Regions from separate parts of the Homo sapiens genome. Here region 2 is linked to region 1. Evidence: fine-mapped expression QTL. Tissue or cell type: whole blood. Region 1 holds a variant in brackets; the other region holds the start of a gene. All regions are shown on one strand. Distances are from middle to middle.

The links. PIP is the estimated chance that this variant, and not a neighbour inherited with it, causes the effect.
Region 2: AXIN2 starts here. The variant in region 1 is fine-mapped to the expression of AXIN2 in whole blood (INTERVAL, PIP above 0.99). The same link has a PIP of 0.9 or more in T cells.

Annotation. Positions count from the first base shown.
Region 1 is chr17:65,534,513-65,545,621 of GRCh38, forward strand. AXIN2 (axin 2) reads right to left here. Exons shown (of 11, transcript NM_004655.4): 4 at 6,943-7,045; 5 at 3,691-3,831; 6 at 2,812-3,323; 7 at 2,357-2,551; 8 at 1,808-2,041; 9 at 1,114-1,209. Among named protein-coding and RNA genes, the nearest start is that of AXIN2, 22 kb to the right of the region's middle. RefSeq lists a silencer at 8,145-8,345. The variant C/A (reference allele first, on the strand shown) is at 3,908.
Region 2 is chr17:65,557,853-65,567,174 of GRCh38, forward strand. It overlaps AXIN2 (axin 2), which reads right to left and starts at 3,796. Exons shown (of 11, transcript NM_004655.4): 1 at 3,598-3,796; 2 at 1-884. The coding sequence starts at 768. RefSeq lists a silencer at 3,810-3,959.

The DNA of each region.
Region 1 (11,109 bases):
ATGATCTCAGAATGCCTAAAGCCCACCCCTTATTCCAGCAGAATGAGAACAACTAATGGGGGTTATCACACAGTCATGTCCATTTCCCCATTTCTTCTGAGATTTTGTAGAATGGCTTGAAAAAAAGGCTGCTAGGCCGGGCGTGGTGGCTCACGCCTGTAATCCCAGCACTTTGGGAGGCCGAGGTGGGCGGATCACTTGAGGTCAGGAGTTTGAGACCAGCTTGGCCAACATGGCGAAACCCTGTCTCTACTAACAATACAAAAAAGGAGCTGGGTGTGGTGGTGGGCGCCTGCAATCCCAGCTACTCGGGAGGCTGAGGCAGGAGAACTGCCTGAACCCAGGAGGCGGAGGCTGCAGTGGGCCAAGATTAAGCCACTGCACTCCAGCCTGGGCAACAGGGCGAGACTCTGTCTCAAAAAGAAAAAAAAAAGTGGCTGGCCCAGACCCAGAGAGCTGGTACACTTAGGGTCAACCAATTGAAACAATGAAAGGGTCCAGGGCAGTGGCCTATTGAGGACTTCAAACATTGCTCATTGCTCAGGATGAAGACACTAAGAAAGAAAACTTGATACAGACCATTTTAGATCTCTTTAGCAGATTTCTTTTTAATTGCACCATCCAGTAATTAAACGAGCAGGCTCCTCAACCTACTTTGAAAGAGACTAAATTTACAAAAAGAATCACTGCCCAATTTGGGGGAAGATATTCTGTCTTCTCCAAACAAAAACACAAGGATGGTCCCCTCCACCTCTGCCACAGTGGAGAATGATCTTTCTGCTCAGGGGTGACAAATGTTTCCAGTACTACTAAATTGCAAGTTGAATGGGGGCAACTTTTCCAGCTGAATTTGAGGTCCCTTCTACACTTCTGCTAATGGCTTCATGTCCCAGCTTTTGATTTGTGTATGACCAGAAAAACTTTTGCTATGATGCATTTGTCGGCAGGACATGGATGGCAACATCTACGTTTACTGTTCCTCATCACTAGCGCTAAAATCAAAGTGATTTTAAAAACCAAAAAAAGTTTCATGAAAATGAAACTCCAGATAGCGAATATTCTGAAACATAAAGCACTCGGCAGATCTCAGTAATGTCAGGTAAAGACACTCACTCTTCTGGAGCCAGGCTTGGATTGGAGAAGGGTGTGGCTCCCGTCTGAACAGTGGCCGAATGATTCCTGTCCCTCTGCTGACTGGCCACACAGCACCTGAGGACACAGCCAGGGCGAGGGATTTAGAGGTACACTGTTGTCCCCAGAGCAATTGAAAAGCAGACAGAAAATTACTATTTGGCCTCCTGAAGAGACACGAACCCGACTTCCATCCTTACGGAGACCCAACCAAGACCCTGGGTTAACAGTGGCTGAAGAGGCCAGGAAGACGTCTTGGAACAGCCATTCTAAGCCCCCCTGGGAGCCCAGGATGGGACATTCTCAGCCCCAGCAAAGGGCTGAGGACTCTTGATCCTCCATCTCACAGCTTCTTATATACTCAACTAACCAGCCTTAAACAATCAAGACATTTGTAAGGAATGGGATTTGTAAGCAATTGCTGAAATTCATTCTCCCAATTCTAGGCATGACTTGCCTCACAGATCCTGGCTTAACTCTAGTAGAATGAACATAACTGAAGGGAACAATTTCTAGAAGCTGGAAAGCAGCAGCTTACTCATCCATAAGTAATTCTTCTTCTCATGGGAGGGTTTGAGACCCAGGCAGAAAGAGAGGCCCTCCCCATTAGCCACAGACCAGGTCTCCACCCAAACCCAATCCCTGCCTCAACCTAGGACCCTTCACTTCCACTCACCGCTGCTTTGGGGGCTTCGACACCTCAGCTAGCCTGCGACAGGCCTCCTCCAGCTGAGCCAGCGTGTTGGGTGGGGTCAGGGGAGGCATCGCAGGGTCCTGGGTGAACAGGTGGGCACGGGGGGTGGTGCGGGGGTGCCCGCTGTTGCCCCCCCACAGATGGTGCCGGCTGGCTCGTTCGCCTGGAGACGAGCGGGCAGACTCCAAGGGGTAGGCCTTTTTTGTGCTTTGGGCACTAAACAAGGAATGAGCAGAGAGAAAACAGAAGGAAAGAAACTGGGTTAGAAGAACTGGAAAATGTGACTTCAATAGAAACTTGTCTATTCTGCTCAGAGAGAGAGTTAAAAAAAAAACTACCATAACATGAACAGGGGTCAGTGCCAAAACATGACATTTTTGTGGTCTGCTCAGTCCAACGTTTAATATTAAGATGGCAGGAGCAAATAGTCACATTTGTATTCCGCGGACTGCAAAAACAGCCATTCCCACAATACCTCCGTACTGAGTGCCCATGACCCTCGCGGCCGCGGCGGCGGCAAGCGGTGTTTACCTATGGGGCTTGGGCTTGCTCTGCCGCTCACTCTCCAGCATCCACTGCCAGACATCCTGCGACCTGTCTCCTTCCTCCCGGGGAAGCTGCAGGGCCCCAGCTCCGCCGGGGGCCCCTCCTTCCCTGGCGGGCAGGGCCAGGCCCGGCTCCGTGCCTTTCCCATTGCGTTTGGGCAAGGTACTGCCTCTGCTGCCGCTGTGGGGAACCAAGAACCACACCCAACCCAGAGACCCGGTTAAATCTCCGGGACTCCTAGAATCAGACAATTCAGCAAGTCGGGGGGCTGGTGACACGAAAGACCCATGCACCTGCTCCCCGCACCCTCACCCGGCCGTGCACTCTGCCGCCCTCTTAGAAACTAAATGCCTGTAATGCGGCTCCCACCTCACACCTGCCCATGGACCTGGCTGGGAGACAAGCCCCACACGGGACACTGCGGTCCGCCCGGCACTTACCCAAACTGCTCGCTGGGCATGGTTTCCGGAGCCTTGGAGTGGCTTTTGCATTTCGAGTAGCAGTAATACTCGCTGCCCCCAGGGCAGAAGCAGTGCACCCGCTGCGTGGCCTCCGCCTCGATCTCCTCCTTGGTCTTGGGGACGGCATGGTGGTGGATGTAGTGGTGGTGGACATGCTTCGTCGTCTGCTTGGTCACAAAGCCTTTGCCCCCGAGGAGGGGGCAGGCGCCCGGCGAGGCGGCCGCGGGAGGCAGCTTGCCACCGGGCGGGAGCAGGGAGTGGTACTGCGAATGGTGGTGGTGGTGGTGGTCCGGGGAGCGGGAGCGGGGGCTATAGCGGCCTACGCCTGGAGACTGGCAGCCAGGGGTCTTGAGGACCCTGGACAGGTGATCGTCCAGTATCGTCTGCGGGTCTTCCTCGTAGCTGCCGGAGGGCAGTAGGGAGAGGGGGTGCTGCGTGGGCGCCCCCTCCCGCGAATTGAGTGTGAGCTCGGAGCCCTCTCTCTCTTCATCCTGAAAGGGAAGACGTCAGAAGGAGAAGTGACCCAGGAAGCAGAAGGGCCAGAGGCCCTGGGGTTGCAACATTCGGCTCCCTACGCAGGAGCACGCACACCCGTGTGCACGCCCACAGCCACGCCCATGCGCACACGCACAGGCCCGCCTACACAAGCACATATCCACACGCATATGCACACCCACACGCAACCCATGCACATGCGCACACAGCCCACGCCCAGGCACACACCCACACGCAGCCCACGCGCATGCGCATGCAACCCACGCACATGCGCACACCCTAACGCACCCCATGCACATGCGCATACACATACGAGCGCTCACGCCGTGGACGGAAGCAGGAAGAAGGCCTAGGCCGCATTACCTCTCGGATCTGCTGCAGGCGCTCCTCCAGGCTGTGGCGGCTCTCCAACTCCAGCTTCAGCTTTTCCAGCCTCGAGATCAGCTCAGCTGCAAAGGTGGCGGGTTCCACGGGGGTCATCTCCTTGGGCAGGCGGTGGGTTCTCTACAGGACGTGGAAAGGAAAGGGAGGAGGCACGTTCAGCAGGCTAGGTGGGCGGTGGCTTGGCCGGAGCTTCCCG[C/A]ACCAGGCGCTGTGCACCGCAAACCCATGTTCGGGTGTAGAGTGGATGGCAAGGCGGCCTGGGCTGCTCGGGACTTTTATGCGCTAGCGCCATGGCCTCATGGAGAGCCATGGTCCCCACCAGCGTTTGCCTTGGGCAGGAGCAGTTGGTCGCACTCCGAGAGGCCCTGCTTGTTCTTTCTGTAGTACAACCAGCCCATCAGTAGTTACTTTGAAGTAGAAAATCTTCAAAGACTGTTGTCAACCATCAAAAAAAAAAAAAAAAAAAAAAAAAAAAAAAAAAAAAAGGCAGCCCTCTGAGGTGGGGAGGGGAGAGACCAACTCAAGGAATAGAAAGTAGAATCTAAACAGAAAGAGAGTTGAAAATTTAAAAAAATAAGATTGGAAAGGAGGTGGGAGGAAAGAAAGTGGGGGAAAAGGGAGTCAAACGGCCTGGATCAGAGAAGAAGTGGTAATTTATTTCCTGGCCGCACACTGCGCACCTTTGAGGTGGTGGTGTCTCAACACTGTCCTCGATCTCCCTCGTTTTTCTCCTTCCCTCCTCCCTCTCTCTTTGTACAGAAAATGAAGAAAGCTGCTGCAGGCTAGTAGCAGAACACTGCTGAGCTTGGCTGCCTGAAGCTGATCTATCAAGGGAAAAGGGAACATCTCCAAATCAAGTGCAGAATATAAAAAGGCACCGAGTACGCCTGCCAAAAGCAGCAAACAGAGAGAACCCCTGCTGCCCAGCTTTCTGTCCTTTTCCTGTCATCTCGCTCCCCCCACCCAACCCCCCACCTCTCCAGTTGTTCTACCTCCTTCTTCCTAATCTCCCTCTTGCTTAGCTCCTTTCTTTGGGCTGGGGTGGGGGTAGCAGAAAGCTAACTTGCAAAGGCTAGCATCTCCCCCAGCTGAAAAGATGGGCCTTGCCACGGCAACCACTTAGCTGCAGAAACTGGGGAAGAAGAGAAAGGCTCCTGTGTAGGTGGCCATTCTCACACAGGCTGGCTCCTTGCAGCCCCTGATCAAAGCGCTGCCTGATGGAGAAAGTCGATTTGCACACCCCAGGACAAAATCATCTAATTTACAAGCTTGGGCGATAGAACTTTTCTTTGTTAACTCACATATCCCCCAGTCAAAAAAACAATGATAGTATGTCATCAATACTTGTTATCTGTAGAGGGAGGGGATGCTAGAGGTCCTCAGAAAAGCAATTTTAATATGCTAATTTTAAAACAAGGTAAGTCTGCCCTTGTCTGTGTGAGGAGCTTTCAGAGAAGAGCTATAGTTTGTGCACTAATGCAACATGGGTTTAGCAATTCAATGTGTTAATTTTTTAAACACAACATAACCAGACCAATTAGATTCTCTGAAGCTGGCAGGAAGGATTCATAAACACCTGCTGTGAGCTGGGTGCTTTCTTCCCCTCCCCTCCTTGCAACCTGGATCTGAGGCTGTTGTAAACAGCACAGCCCTAAAATGGGAATGTAGATGGGGAAGTTCTCTTGAGTACAGCCATGTGCTGGCTGCTTTAGCAAGCATGGAAATAAAAGCAGAGGTCCCAGAAGAGCCCTTCATCCACCATCTCAGTCACAGGAAGAAGCTGCTCAGGAGATCCTCACTTCTAAACACTTCGTTCATTCCGCATTTGATAGGCACAGACTCACCAGCAGGTACCAAGCCAAGTTCTGGAGTTGGAAAGGAACAGCTACCCTCCAGGGCTTCAGGAGCCAGGAGGAGAAATGGTCAATGAATACATAAATAAATGACTAAAATCACTGACTAAAATGACTTGGAGTCCTGTGGTTGACACAAGAAGTAGAATGTCCCAGTGAAGAGAGCAGGAGGATGTCCCAAGGGGGGGCAGAGGTTCCTTATTCATTCACTCAAATGTTTATTGAGCACCTATTATGTGTCAGGTACTGTTCTAGTCTCTGTGCATACAGAGGTTAACAGAATAGATAAAACTCCCTCCCATCAGAGGGCTTCCATTCTAGTGGAAATACAGTGAGCTCACCAAGCTGTAGAGAAGCATGGATCATCTAGCATTTCTTAGTTTCTGGGAAATAAGTGCTTCAGTTTCTTTCTGATAGGGAATTTTTTTTTTGAATTCAGAAAATGCAAAGGTTCAAAAATAGGTCATCAAACCTCTCACATAGTTGGGATGCTTGTCCCCTCCAAATCTCATGTTGAAATATGATCCCCAATGGTGGAAGTGCACCTAGTGGGAGGTGTTTCGTGCCCTCCCTGCAGTAATGAGCAAGTTTTCCCTGTAGTTCATATGAGATCTGGTTGTTTGAAAGAACATGGCATTGCCCACCACCCCCCCAACCTCAGCTTGCTGTTTCTCCCGCTATGTTACAAACTGGCTCTCCTTCCCCTTGCGCATCATGATTGAAAGCTCCCTGAGACCTTCACCAGAAGCAGATGTTGGCGCCATGGTTCTTGAATAGCCTGCAGATCCATGAACCAAATAAACCTCTTTTCTTTGTTTTTTCTTTTGAGAAGGAGTCTCGCTCTGTCGCCCAGGCTGGAGTGCACTGGCGTTAGCTCACTACAACCTCCACCTCCCAGGTTCAAGTGATTCCCCTGCCTCAGGCTCCCAAGTAGCTGGGACTACAGGCGCACGTCACCACGCTAGGCTAATTTTTGTATTTTTAGTAGTGGTGGGGCTTCACCATGTTGGCCAGGCTGGGTCTCGAACTCCTGACCTCAGGTGATCTGCCCACCTCCGACTCCCAAAGTGCTGAGATTACAGGCATGAGCCACTGTGCCCAGCCGTAAACCTCTTCTTTTTATAAATTACTCAACCTCAGGTATTCCTTTATAGCAAAACTGACTGATACCTCATAATCACATCACTGTGCTCACCATCACAACCCAAAAAACCATGTAATGCCTATTGTCCAGTTCTTTTCTCTCCCTTTGCCCTAGGGGACCTTAGGTACTGCTCTTTTCTACCTTCCCTATACCTCTCCCCATTCCACCACCCATTTCTTTTCTTTAGGACTCAACATGGCAGAAAACAGCTGTCTCCTCACTCCAGACTGTACTCACCGGGAAATGAGGTAGAGACACTTGGCCATTGGCCTTCACACTGCGATGCATTTCTCTCTGGAGCTGTTTCTTACTGCCCACACGATAAGGAGGAATTCCATCTCTAAGGGAAAGGAAAAGACAGAATCCACAGGCTTACGAGGATGTTTTCAGCACATCACATGGGCTACTGTCATATGCCATCTTGAGATCCCGCCGACAGGGCCACATGCTTCCATAGGAGTGTCACATGTCTCCAGATACCATCGGTGCTCCCACAGGGAAGGACCCACCCAAGGTCAAATTTAAATCCTGCCCATCAATCATCTATGGAAACTTGGCTTCCTTGGATGCAGAAGCATCAACTTGGAAAGAGCCTGGAAAGTTAATCTCTCGGACTGTTGTCTTAGAACTGGGTTACACTCCAGCCAGCCCAGGCAGAGCAAAGGCTCCCCTATTTTACAGGTGCCCTAAGTAGGAGATTCTCAGGCCCCACTGGTCCTCCCACTTGTTCCCACTGCTTCAAACCAGGAACCAGTGCCTTATGGATAGGGCCAGGGCAGAAAGTTGTAGGGATAAGAACCAAACCTACAGAGGGCTAAATCAGGCATTAGTGAAGCATGCATAACTCTCCAAGTCAACCTCCTAGTCATTTCCAAATGTATTTCTTTTTATAAACCAGTACAGCGTGATTAATAAAAAGAATATATAACATTTAGGCCCCTTCTCTCAGCTCCAAACCCTACCACCCCCAACCAATGAATTTTCAAAGACACATGACCAATGTGGGCATGAAGAGAAAAGCCCCTACTATGTGGTGGTCTGTGCAATCCATTTAAAGATTAGCACCTACTATGTGCCAGATCTTCTCCTAGGCACTAGGCAAGAGAGCAGTAGACAAAGTGGATACATAATTCAAACAACTGCCCTCTTGAAGTTTACATTCTAATGGGGAGGCACAGGCAATGAACAAAATAAAAAATAGTATGTTAGTGATATGTACTATGAATAAATACACAGCAGGAAAAGGAGAATCACTGGTGAGTGGGTAAGCTGCAAATTTAAATTGGATGTGGGTGTCAAGTCCTCATTGAGAAAGGGACCTTTGGGCAAAGACCTGAAGAAGTATGGGCCCCTATCCATTATATTTTTAAAAACAAAACATTAACAAGTAGAAGAATTTTTAAAAAGCTGCCACTCCAGCTAGTGTTCACTACAACTATGACCTAGAGTTGCCATGATTTTTTCCAGAAAGAATTTCCTTCTTAAAAGCAGAATGGTCAAGGTGTGACTATTTTCCCATTGATGTCCCTTCAGGAGGCCACTTATTTACAAAAGCCTCAGGGTGCAAACATTTTCATAATGAATCATACTTGGAGGCTGTAAATATTGAAATTGGGTGTTTGGCTACTTCCCTTTCCCCAATGTCTGGTTCATCATAGGGTGGAAGAAAAATAGGATAATTAGCAATGTCTAAAAATACCCAGGGGGCAAGCCAGGAGTAACTAGTCAACCTCTAGCTCCTTATCTGAAATGCCCTAGAATTCTAAATAGCTGCATTTTCAGGAAGTCTACTGACCTAGGTCAGAAAACAGGAACACAAGGGACAATGAAGATTCCAATAGATCAACAAACCAATGTATGTTAACCAAACCCTGGCTAAGGAGTGCATAAACGATAATTGCACTGAGGTGAGTAGGGAAGGGAGAGAAGAGAGATCAGTATCCAGAGCAACAACTTACCCCCAAGTGTGAGTACTGCCCCAAAGAAAGGTAAGTATGGAGCAGAGACAGAGCACTGTGGGAAGGATTCGCAGCAGCTGGCTGACCAGTGCTGGAGAAACACGTCTTCTACTCATGACTGAGAAACAGCCTCCTACTCATGAGGCTCGGCACCTGACCAAGCCCACCTAAAGATTATTTATCAAAACTCTGTGTCTTCACCTTGGGTAGCTGAAAACGGGACTTATAAGCATGCCTGGCTTGACCAGAAACCAAATCGCACCCAAGGCAACTGATGCCAACCTGAGAATGCCAGCTCATAGATACCGAGTCCCTACTGTACGTCAGACATTGGACCTATAATCAGACTTCATTCTCATAAGAACCTTAATGAGCCACATTTTACAGATGACCAGAAATGCTCAATAGCTCACCTAGTGTTACAGTCAGTAGCAGATTGACAACTCATACCCAAGCCACTGCTGGACTCCAGAACAGGCATCTGTAACAACCTACACTTGGTCATTTCAATAAGATGCCCTTCCCAGCCCCAATCAGCAGTCAAGCTTCCTGATGGTCTTAATGTGGAGATGCCATTTCCTAAGCCCCACGCAGTCACCTGACATTGATAAGGCATGAGGGGGAAATTTGTGGAATTTTCTGGGAAGTCCTCCCCAACCACCTAGTACTCACTAGCTATGGGGCTCGCCAGGTGGTTCCCAAGCCATGCTGAATATCCCCATCTCTCACCTAAGATACCTTGTATGGTAGGGGTGGCGGTATCCCACAGATTGGGCTCATGCTGGTCTAACCAAATTCTGCTGCCCTAGGGCTGTAAGACAATGTCTATCCTCCATCTCTCTTCTAGGGACTTAGACAGTGGATGACTCTGCTTCAGCCCTGTTCCTGACAGTCTTGGGGGCAGGAGTCAAGCACTCCATGGACCCCACCATGACACAAGTGACATAAGGCTTCAAGAGTCCTAGAAGAGTCCCCCGTCCACCCCCTCCAAGACTCTTGACATTTCCACTGGTAGCTTTCACTCTTCCTTCTCCCAGATGAAAGTCAGTGGTAGAGCTTTTATGCCTCTTTTTCTTCTTCCATATAATAAGGTTAAAAAAAAAAAACAGGATGGGGGTAGGGATGGGGAGGGGAGTAGATAACTGCAATATTGAAGGCAAAAGGAACAAATGATTTCATAAGCACCTCATACCCCGCCCCCCATCCCCCACCACCACCACCACACACACTCCATTACCCAGGGCAGGTGAAGGACTAAACTGCTGGAAAGGCAACTTGTAACCAGAGCAGAAAAGGAAGATGTCAGCCTGTAGAGGCTCAGAAAGGCTTAACAGGCACCTTCAAGGAAATGTGGCTTTAATTCCCTCCAGCCAAGAATCTTCTTCCAAAACAGCCCCTCATTCCAAAAGGGGGCCTCTCTTCTTTTATTCAAGCTCTAAAAGTCTGTGATCAGTTTCCTGGCTGCTCAAGCCTGTGGGCTGGAGAGCACCAGAGTTGTGGTCCCTATACGGTCTCCTTTAATTATAAACATTTTAGTTAACGAGCCTGCTGCCGGGCCCAGCTGTTTCTGGGGAGCATGGTTTTGAAGTGTGGACTCCACTTAGCTGCCATTTGAGCCGAGCCAATTAGCTTAGCCTTTTGACTCCACCGTGCCCGACCTAACCTGAATGTCATTTTCTGGCGACTTTGAAATAGCAGACTCATGCACACATGCGTCCACTCGCATCTTCATTTGGCAACCACTCTGAAGGCAGCCTCTGATCACAGCCAACATCAAAAGCCTGGTTTGTAGGAAAAGGTTAGTATTTGAAGTTCACTCAGATGCATTTCCTGGTGTCCAAAGTAAACCCCCATAAATAAGATATAAAGAAATACAAATAAATAACTCGCGACATTCCCTGTGTGAAACACCAAAAAATCATCTTGTGCTGATTTGGGGACACTCAGAGCTGAAGCAACATACAAACGTAGCTGATCCTGATTACAAGAGCAACTCCTAGCAGAAAGAAGAGACAAAGGCCTCCACACCACTGACTTAGCTTTCATGATTCCTGGCAACATCTAACCATGGCTACACTTGGGCGGCAAAGAGTCTGCTGCTTCTGACATTTTCACCCTCTTTACTCCATCCTTCTAAGCCTGATGCCCTGGAATGGCCCACAAGCCTTCTGCCTCCAGTGCTGCAAGGATTTTGGTGGGAGTCTGGCAGTTAACGTTAAAAAAATTTTTTTTGGCAGGTTGTGGTGGCTCACGCCTGTAATCCCACCACTTTAGGAGGCCGAGGTGGGTGGGTCACGAAGTCAAGAGATCGAGACCATCCTGGCCAACATGGTGAAGCCCCGTCTCAACTAAAAATAGAAAAATTAGCTGGGCGTGGTGGTGCACGCCTGTAGTCCCAGCTACCCAGGAGGCGGAGGTTCCAGTGAGCCAAGATCGCGCCACTGCA
Region 2 (9,322 bases), 22 kb after region 1:
CCTCAGAGTTTTGCTGGACAAGCCAACCACGGTTGGCGAAAGTTTGCACTTGAAGTCGGCACAAGTCCACTCCTCTTCTTCATTCAAGGTGGGGAGATAGCCACACACGACCTTTAGGCTCCCGAGTCCCCCATTACTCATGTAAGCTGTGTTTTCTCCCCCACTCCTCACATATTCGAGGTATATATCAGAAGTCAAAAACATCTGGTAGGCATTTTCCTCCATCACCGACTGGATCTCGGTCTGCGCCTGGTCAAACATGATGGAATCAATCTGCTGCTTCTTGATGCCATCTCTTATGTAGGTCTTGGTGGCAGGCTTCAGCTGCTTGGAGACAATGCTGTTGTTCTCAATGTACCTTTTGTAGATCGCTTTGGCTACTCGTAAAGTTTTGGTATCCTTCAGGTTCATCTGCCTGAATCCATTGCAGGCAAACCAGAAGTCTAAGGTATCCACGCATTTCTCCCTCTCCAGGAAAGTTCGGAACAGGTAAGCACCGTCTTGATCGCCCAATAAGGAGTGTAAGGACTTGGTCCACCGGGTCAGAGGGGAATCCGGAGATGCCCGCCCCTCCGGCTCCCCCAACCCATCTTCGTTCCGCCTGGTGTTGGAAGAGACAGGCATGGGTTTGGTGACCTGGCCCTTGCCCACCCCTGGCTGACACGGTGGGGTCTCCCCTTCTTCCCCTGGCACTGGGGGCCGCGGGGCATCCTCACGGAAGCTGCTGCTGGGGTCCGGGAGGCAAGTCACCAACATAGCGCTACTCATGGTGAGGGAGCTCTTCCCACTGAGTCTGGGAATTTTTCTTCTTCCAGTTCCTCTCAGCAATCGGCGTGGTCTCTCTGTCTCTCTCAAGTCAGCAGGGGCTCATCTGAACCTCCTCTCTGGAAAGAAAAGGAAGGGGGGAGGTGGGGAGAGAGAAAAGGGTATTGATCTAATCAAAACCAGATCTACCCAACATCAAAGCAAGAAAGTAAACAGGCTTTTCAACTCCTCAAATTCAAATCAAGCAACCCAGCTATCTGCGAGGTGCTCATCTAAAGTATCAGGCGCTGCTTTTCAAAAGCGAAATCTGAGCTCCCTGCACACTTTTCGGGGTTGGGGGTGGGAGGGAGCTGTTGGGAAAGAGGCGGGGAAGGTGAGAGGAAGGCAAGAGCTGGGGACGGCAGGGGGACACTGGAGGTGTAAGACACAACCTTCCAAAAACCCACTCGGCCAGGGCGCACGCAGGGCAGCTCAGCCCGCGCCTCGCCTTCCCTCCCTTCCCCTCCCCCGATACCATCAACTCCAAAAAGGCGCACTCCCAGCCGCTAGGCTGTGTGCAGGTGAAACCAATTTCGGTATATTTCCCCACTCGGCCCTGCACAGATAACTCGAGCTCCAAACGTGCCCTTCCCCGGCATCTGGTTCCCATTCTCCCCACCCACCCCCTCCCTCTGCGCTCCCTCTTCCCACTCCTTAAAAATTCAGAAGATCCTGGCCCAAGAGAAGCCCGCCCAGCATAGGCGGATTGGGCTCCCGGACTCCCAGATTCAGCACGCAAACACCCCCTCCCCAACTCAGATTTGAGTGTTCGCTACGCGCCCCCTACCCCCACCAAGAATCCAGCTCAGTCAACACCTCTGTCTTCCCTGACCTCCCCCCAAACCAGAAACCAACTCACTCAGGGGAGACTTTCATCTTCAAACTTTGAGAGAGAGCTGAGAAGCCTCGGAACCGTCGCCCCCGTGCCCCCAACCCACCTCCCGGATCCGCGAAACCTACAAAACTGGATCACCAGCCGTCTCACGCCACTACTGCCTGTGCCAAGAATCCCAAACTCTACTGATTTCAAGCCTGTCTTTTTTCCAAAGAAAAAAGTCTTATCTAACCAATAAACAAGCTGCTTTCCCTAGCACGGAAAAGATCAAACTAAGAAGGGTAGGGGCTGAACGGGGTGCAACCCCGGGCGAGAAGCCAGGGACCCCGGATCTGGGATGGGTGCACGCTGAACCCGACCAGAGCCTCGAGCCGCGGGGCTGGGCGGCGCGGCCCACGGAGAAGTGGGGCTGCCGTTGGCACCGCGCTACCCGGGCGGTGGGAGGTGGAGCGGCCCCGTTACCTGGAAGACGAAGGCCGCCGAAGCCAGGCTCTCATGTCCTCCGAGCCCCTCCGGCCCGGTCCCCCGGCCCAAATGCAACTGAACGCCTCCAGAGCCCTGGCGGGCACACCTCGAGGCCGGAACCCCGGGACACGCCAGCAGCGCCCCGAGCCCGGGCGGGGGGTCGGTCCCCGGCGCCGCCGTTTGCAGAGGCGCCCGCAGAAAAAGCACAGAAAGCAGCAGCCTAGTCCAGAAATGGCGACGCGCGGAGTCTCTGCCTCTCCGCAAAAGGGGCCGGGGCGGCCACGGGCGAGGGGCCCGGGCCGGGAGGAGGGACGCGAGGGACACGGGCGCCCCGGACTTGGGCCGGTCCTGCGCGCAGACTGAGCCTCCGCCAGCGCTGTGGGCCCCTTAGCGCGGACCCGCGGCAGGGAGGGGAAAAGGGGAGGGGGAAGAGAAGTAGGAGGAGAGGATGGGGCGGAGGAGAGGCGGGGGGCGGGGGAGGGCAAGCGGGGGGCGCCGCTACCCTTTCATCCCACCTCCCAAAGGCACTCCCGCGCGCACTCACACGCCGACTCACATCCATAACCGCGACAGCGACGCGACCCCCGGGGGGTATCTGCCCCCTCTCCGCCCCCGCCACTGCCGCCACTCGGATAAGTCTCCTCTCTGGGCCCCCCGCCAACCCGGTCACCGCGCTGGGGAGGGGGCTCCGGCGCAGGGCGCGCAAGGCTGCCCGGCCAAGCCCCCCGGAACGCTGGGCGCCGGGTCCGCCGCTCCCCTCCGCGCCGGCCCCTAGCGCGCCCCGAAATAGCCGGCCTGCCAACTTCAAAGGGCCGCCCCGCACATCAAAGCGCGCGGTCCGCCCGGCCGCCTCGGCCTCGGCACTCACCATTGATCCCCGCGCGCGCTCGGCGGCGAGACCTCGCAGGCGCCCCTGGCAGGGGCCCGGCCCCGGCCCCCGGCTCGGCTCGCGGCGGCAGCCCCGGGCCCCCCCGGGCCGGCCGCGGCGTCGGGGAACATGGGGAGTCGTGCGGCGGGGGAGGGGGTGCGGGAAACAACAATCCCGGGTTCAGAGCGAAAGCCACCGGCCGGGGAGGGGGAACGGCGCGCCCCGCCGCCCCTTTTATGCAAAAGATCCGAGCGGGCCTCCGCCCCCGCCCGGCCCGGCTTTCAACGCAGGTCCTGTTTCCAGCAGTCACTCGGCGCACCAAATGTCCTCCGGGCGCTTCCAACAAAAACTGCGCTGTGGATTTAACTGTGCACTTCAAAGGCGCGAGCCGAGCGCACGGTCCTGAAAGGGAGGTACGCGCCGGCCGCGCCCCGGGCCGCCCCCCGCAGCCCCGCCACCGCTCCGCAGGGCCGCCCCGCCCGCGCCCCCCTCCAGGCCCGGCCTCCGCCTGGCCGGGCCCCCTCCCGCCCCCCGCGCCCACGCCGCGGCTCGGCGCGACCTCGCCCCCTGTAAGAGGGGGGCTTTCTTTGAAGCGGCTCCGCTGGGGCCGAGCTTCCACCCCCACCTTTTACAGCAGGGCCTTCGGCGGGCGCCTCGGCCGCCGGGCGGCCCCGAAATCCATCGCTCTGAGGGGTTATTTTTATTTCCCGGCTCTCGGGCTGTTACTGAGTTGCCAGGACCTTATCAAAGCGCAGCCGGCTCCAGCCGACTCCCCCGGGCCAGGCTCGCGGAGCCAGTGATCCCGCCGCGCCAATCACAGCCGCGCTCGGCCGGCCCGCGCCGCCCGCCTTAAAGGGACAGCGCCCCGCGCCCGCCCCGCCCCGCCCCGGCCCGCCCCCGCCGCACGCTCCGCTCCCGCGTTAACCCTTCCCCGGCCTCTCCTCCGCCCCCTGCCAGCCCCCCGCGGCCCCGAGGGCATTCTCAGCCCGAGTTCTGATTTCTTCTTTTAAGTTCTCCGGCCTCTTTGCTCCCGCCTCCTCCCCCTGCCTGCCCTCGCTCTCCCCGGCTCTGGAATGCAACAGTTTCTGGTAGCATTATGGCCATCGCAAGAACTGCAAGCAAGCAGATTTTTTTTTTTCTATCATCAAACGCTTTTCTACCTCTATTCAAGTTTCCCTGGGAATTTGGGCTTGGAGGACTTTATAAAGGGAGTTCCGGCCCTGGGGTTGGCTGGCCCGCTGTCATAGGGCGGACTCGGGCCCAGCCGCTGGAGGCGTGTGCATGCCTGTGCGCGCTTGTGCACGTGCATCTGAGTTCGGGTAAATATAGGACTGCAGTTGGTGGATGAATTGCGTTTGTGCATGTGTGAAAGTGGGGTGTGAATCCGCCAGTATAGGCCTGAGTGCTAACACCAGTTAGGAGGCATACCTCAGTGCCCTGAAGACCTAGGTCCAGCTTCCTAACCTGCTGGCCATAAGACCCTCGTAGCGGCACACATTGGCCATCTCTCCCAAACAACTGCATACCCGTTACTCTTCCAAAGTCCCCTCTTCTGCCATATGTTACATATTAAACCGATAGGAATATCTTTTTTCCCACTCCAAACGACAAGGCATGCATGCCGTTTTAATGTATCGAAAACTCCTCACCCCATTGTCACCTTTGAATTTCTCCCACATTTGCCCAAAAACGTTTATAAGGCACACACAACCTTCTCTTCTCCGTTAAAATGAGAAAATATGTCACAAACCCAGAGCATTGTGTATTTATTCTGCTGCTGCTATAGAATGATTCCTTATGTTATGAGCGAATAATTAACTTTTCTTCCTTTTAAAAAACAAAGGGCCGGGGACGGTGGCTCATGCCTGTAATCCCAGCATTTTGGGAGGCCCATGCTGGAGGATCATCTGAGGTCAGGAGTTCGAGACCAGCCTGCCTAATATGGCGAAACCCCGTCTCTACTAAAAATACAAAAATCAGCCGGGTGTGGTGGCACGTGCCTGTAGTCCCAGCTACTCGGGAGGCTGAGGCAGGAGAATCGCTTGAACCTAGGAGACGGGGGTGGGGGGGTTGCAGTGAGCCAAGATGGCACCACTGCACGCCAGGCTGGGTGACAAAGCGAGACTCCCTCAAAAAAAAAAAAAAAAAACACACACACACACACACATAAAGGTGTGAACCAAAGAGATCCAAGAAGTGAAAGGCAGAGTCCTGGCCTCAGAGCTGTGCAAGGCTCTTACTCTCCAACTTAATGGATGACGAGCCCTTTTAAATGCGAGATGGCCTGTCATTAGGCCTTCAGAACTTTAAAACATGCAAGAATTGTGGCTCTATCTAGGTATCCATAGAAAAAGAGAAGGAAGAGGCTGGGTGTGGTGGCTCACCCGTGTAATCCCAGCACTTCGGGAGGCCAAGGCAGGCGGATCACCTGAGGTCAGGCATTCGAGACCAGCCTGGCCAACATAGTGAAACCCTGTCCCTACTAAAACTACAAATATTAGCCAGGCGTGGTGGGGGGCGCCTGTAGTCCCAGCTACTCGGGAGGCTGAGGCAGGAGAATCATTTAAACACAGGAGGTTAAGGTTGCAGTGAGCCTGGGCGACAGAGCAAGACTCCATCTCAAAAAAAAAAAAGAAAAGAAAAAAAGAGGAGGAAGATCCACCACCCATGATCTGCTGGAAAGGGGCAGGTGGCAGGACTGTGCGCCACCTGCCCTCAGCCTAAGGGACTGTGACAAGGGACTAGAAAGCTCTTAGACTTTCTAGTCTAAGACTCTGGACTCTGGCTCGTGGGTGCCATGACAGGTGGCCGCTCCTCCCCAAAACCTGCCTTTCGGTGCCCATGGTCTGCAGCTCCAGGCTCTCGACCCCAGGCAGCCAGGTTGGCATAAAGACAGCAGTACCAGCCCTGAAATGTGGCCCTGAAGCCAGCCAGGAAGGCCAGGGAAAGAGTGTGGCCCGATGACTCATCTTTGCCTTAGGACAACTGCTGGTGTGAGGAAACCAGTGGGCTCTAAAAGCCCCGGCCTGCTGGTATTCTGGGGGGTCAGTGGCCCATGGACCCTCTTAGCCACCAGCTCTGAGCTGGCCCAGGGCCAAGAACACAGCCACCACCTTTGGCCACCCCAGGAGTGCCAAGAGTAAAACTGTCACTGTGGTTCCAGGGAGTCTTTGGGCCACAGAGGGTGTTATTACTGGAACAGAAATGTAGACAGAGGGGTATGGATTGCCATAAAAGTGTCTACCATATAAACAACAGTAAAGTCACACACACACACACACACACACACACACACACACACACACACACAATGTGGGGGGTGGGGGAGAGAGAAAAATCAAAACATCTAAAATCAAAATAAACAATGTTCAGAAAAAAGAGGTTTTCAAAAAGGAAGTGGAAACTTGGTCTTTGTGGGTGGTTTTCCTCTCCTCCCAGTTGTCCCCACCGACCCGTCACTGCCTCCCCCAACCAGCCCTAATCACTGTAGGCTCAACTTTAACCAAAGGACTACCTCATTATCCCATGGCTGCGACTGTAGCAAGAGGGGACTGGGACTGGGACTGGGGACCCAGGAGCAAGGCCCGGTTTGGTTTGGATCTTCTCGGTCAATAATAACTGCTCTGAGGGCCGGGGTGCAGTGGCTCATGCCTGTAATCCCAGCACTTTGGGAGGCCAAGGCAGGTGGATCACCTGAGGTTAGGAGTTCGAGACCAGCCTGACCGACATGGAGAAACTCCTTCTCTACTAAAAATACAAAATTAGTCAGGCATGGTGGCGCATACCTGTAATCCCAGCTACTTGAGAGGCGGAGGCAGGAGAATCGCTTGAACCCAGGAGACGGAGGTTGTGGTGAGCCGAGATCGTGCCATTGCACTCCAGCCTGGGCAACAAGAGCAAACTCCGTCTCAAAAAATAAATAAATAAAAAATAACTCCTCTGAGAGCATGGTTTCCAGAACAGGTGCTCGGGTCACTTTAGGGCAGTGACTCCCTCCACCATCACCCCTGGCCTGTCCCCTTTCCTACAGCTTTATATCTGGTGGGACACTTCCCTCCCAGCAGGAGGCTGGGCCAAGTACTGGAAAGCCCTCTCTCTAGCCTCTGGGTCTCTGACTACTTGTTGATAATATTTCTAGAGGAGAATCCAAAGTCCTGTGCTTATAGCAGCCCGTTTCTCAAGATAGCACGTTTTCCATTTTCCCCTTGTCCCTGGCAGCAGCGCTATCATGTGACTTGTTGTAATCCTGCACGGTTGCCTGGAAACTGGAAAGCAAGGTGATGGATTTCTGCACATGCTCACTCGCCCCCCCGCTCCACCTTTAAAGAAAAACCCTACGGAGGATAAACAGTCCACTTTGCCTAAGTGCAGACAAGTTTAATAAAGCAGAGAGTGATTCTTTGCTGGAATTATATACTGGGCTGAAATCCTAGAATCCCAGAAAACAAGGACTAAGGGCTCCCTGGGAGGCATCTGGCCAGATCTCTGACCTTTAGTCAGCCCCACAAAAACCACTGTGGAGGGGAAGTCACACCAGCTGGGACTTCAGAGGAGCTGAGACCCAGGACACTGCTCTCTCAGATTCAGTAACTTTGTCTTTTATTCCTTTGGAAAAGTGCTGCCTTAGACAATGTACCTTTGTTTGGGGAGGAAGGTGAAGAGAGACACAGGTAACCTTTCCTAAGACTGGAGGTTACCTAACCACACGGAGTTTCCATTTGTTCACCTGTAGACTGGAGGAAACCTCCCCTGCAAAGGCTGTTGTGAGCCTGAGCAATACGATAAATGCCTGGCACAGAGCTGGACACACAATAGAACATGGCGGTTATTTTCACAGAGTAAGTCTGTTCCCTCAATAGCCTGTTACCTATTCTGGGAAGAAACTCCCTATCTCCAAAGCAAAGATACCGTCCATTGGGAGTGACGATCTGGGGAAGAATGACCCCAGGAGGCTGACCATAGGGGGCCTAAAGGAGATAAAGGAGGCTGTGCCCTGCTACCATCTTTCAAGGATAGTCCTATGCAGAAAGAAATAAGCCCAGGGGCCATTCAAGAGTTATCTAGTCCAACCCTTCATTTAAGAAACCAGACAAATTGGCTGGGTGTGGTGGCTCACACCTGTAATGCCAGCACTTTGGGAGGCTGAGGTGGGCAGATCACCTGAGGTTAGGAGTTCGAGACCAGCCTGTCCAACATGGTGAAACCCTGTCTCTACTAAAATTACAAAAATTAGCTGAGCATGGTGATGCATGCCTGTAATCCCAGCTACTCGGGAGGCTGAGGCAGGAGAATCGCCTGAACCCGAGAGGCAGAGGTTGCATTGAGCGGAGACTGCGCCATTGCACTCCAGCCTGGGCAACAAGAGCGAAACTCTGTCTCCAAAAAAGAAAGAAAGAAAGAAAGAAATCAGACAAATTAAGCAAAGAGAAAGTGAGATTTCCCCAGGATCACTTTGCCCATATCAGAGATGAGCTGGAACTTCTGAGGGGTCCTGACTCCTGGCCCAGCCTCTTTTTCCTCCACACCATAGTGAGGAGACCCAGGGAGGGGCTGGCTGAGATGGAGGGGGTGAGACCATCTGGAGGTCTTGACTTTTACAACAGGACTAATACATACAATCTGGGATACTTTCCTGAAAGAATCACAACAGGGCTTCTGTCTGAAATCCCTCTAAGGCACGCTTCATCCAGCCCCTACCTGTAGGTAGGTTGCCTTGGCTCTGCCAGCTGGGCTACCCACAGCCTGATCTGGGACAGTTTGACCCACGTCTTTTAGAGTGGCAGCCATTTACATGGGCATCTCCGTGGAGTTGATCCACCTAAGGAGGAATGGACCTACTTCCTCTCCCCTTTGCAGAGGAGGGACTGGGAATGCCAAGGTGGAGATTTTGAAGCCACAAGGGGAAAAGTAAGGTTTCCCTAAGAAATCCCATCTTCAAGGCCAGGTGCAGTGACTCACACCTGTAATCCCAGCGCTTTGGGAGCCCAAGTAGGTGGATCAGCTGATGTCAGGAGTTCAAGACCAGCCTGGCCAACATGGCAAAACCCCATCTCTACTGAAAATACAAAAATTAGCCTGGTGTGGTGGCAGACACCTGTAATCCCAGCTACTCGGGAGGCTGAGGCAGGAGAATCATTTGAACCCAGGAGGCAGAGGTTGCAGTGAGCCGAGATCGTGCCACTGCACTCCAGCCTGGGCGACAGAGTGAGACTCTGCCTCAAAAGAAAAGAAAAGAAATCCCATCTTCAGAAGTGTTGGGGGAATTTATTTGTTGATAAAATATCTTTTTTTAATATGAAATTTAAAACACAGTTAAACAGTAATTTAAAACTTCCTAATTGGACTGACTT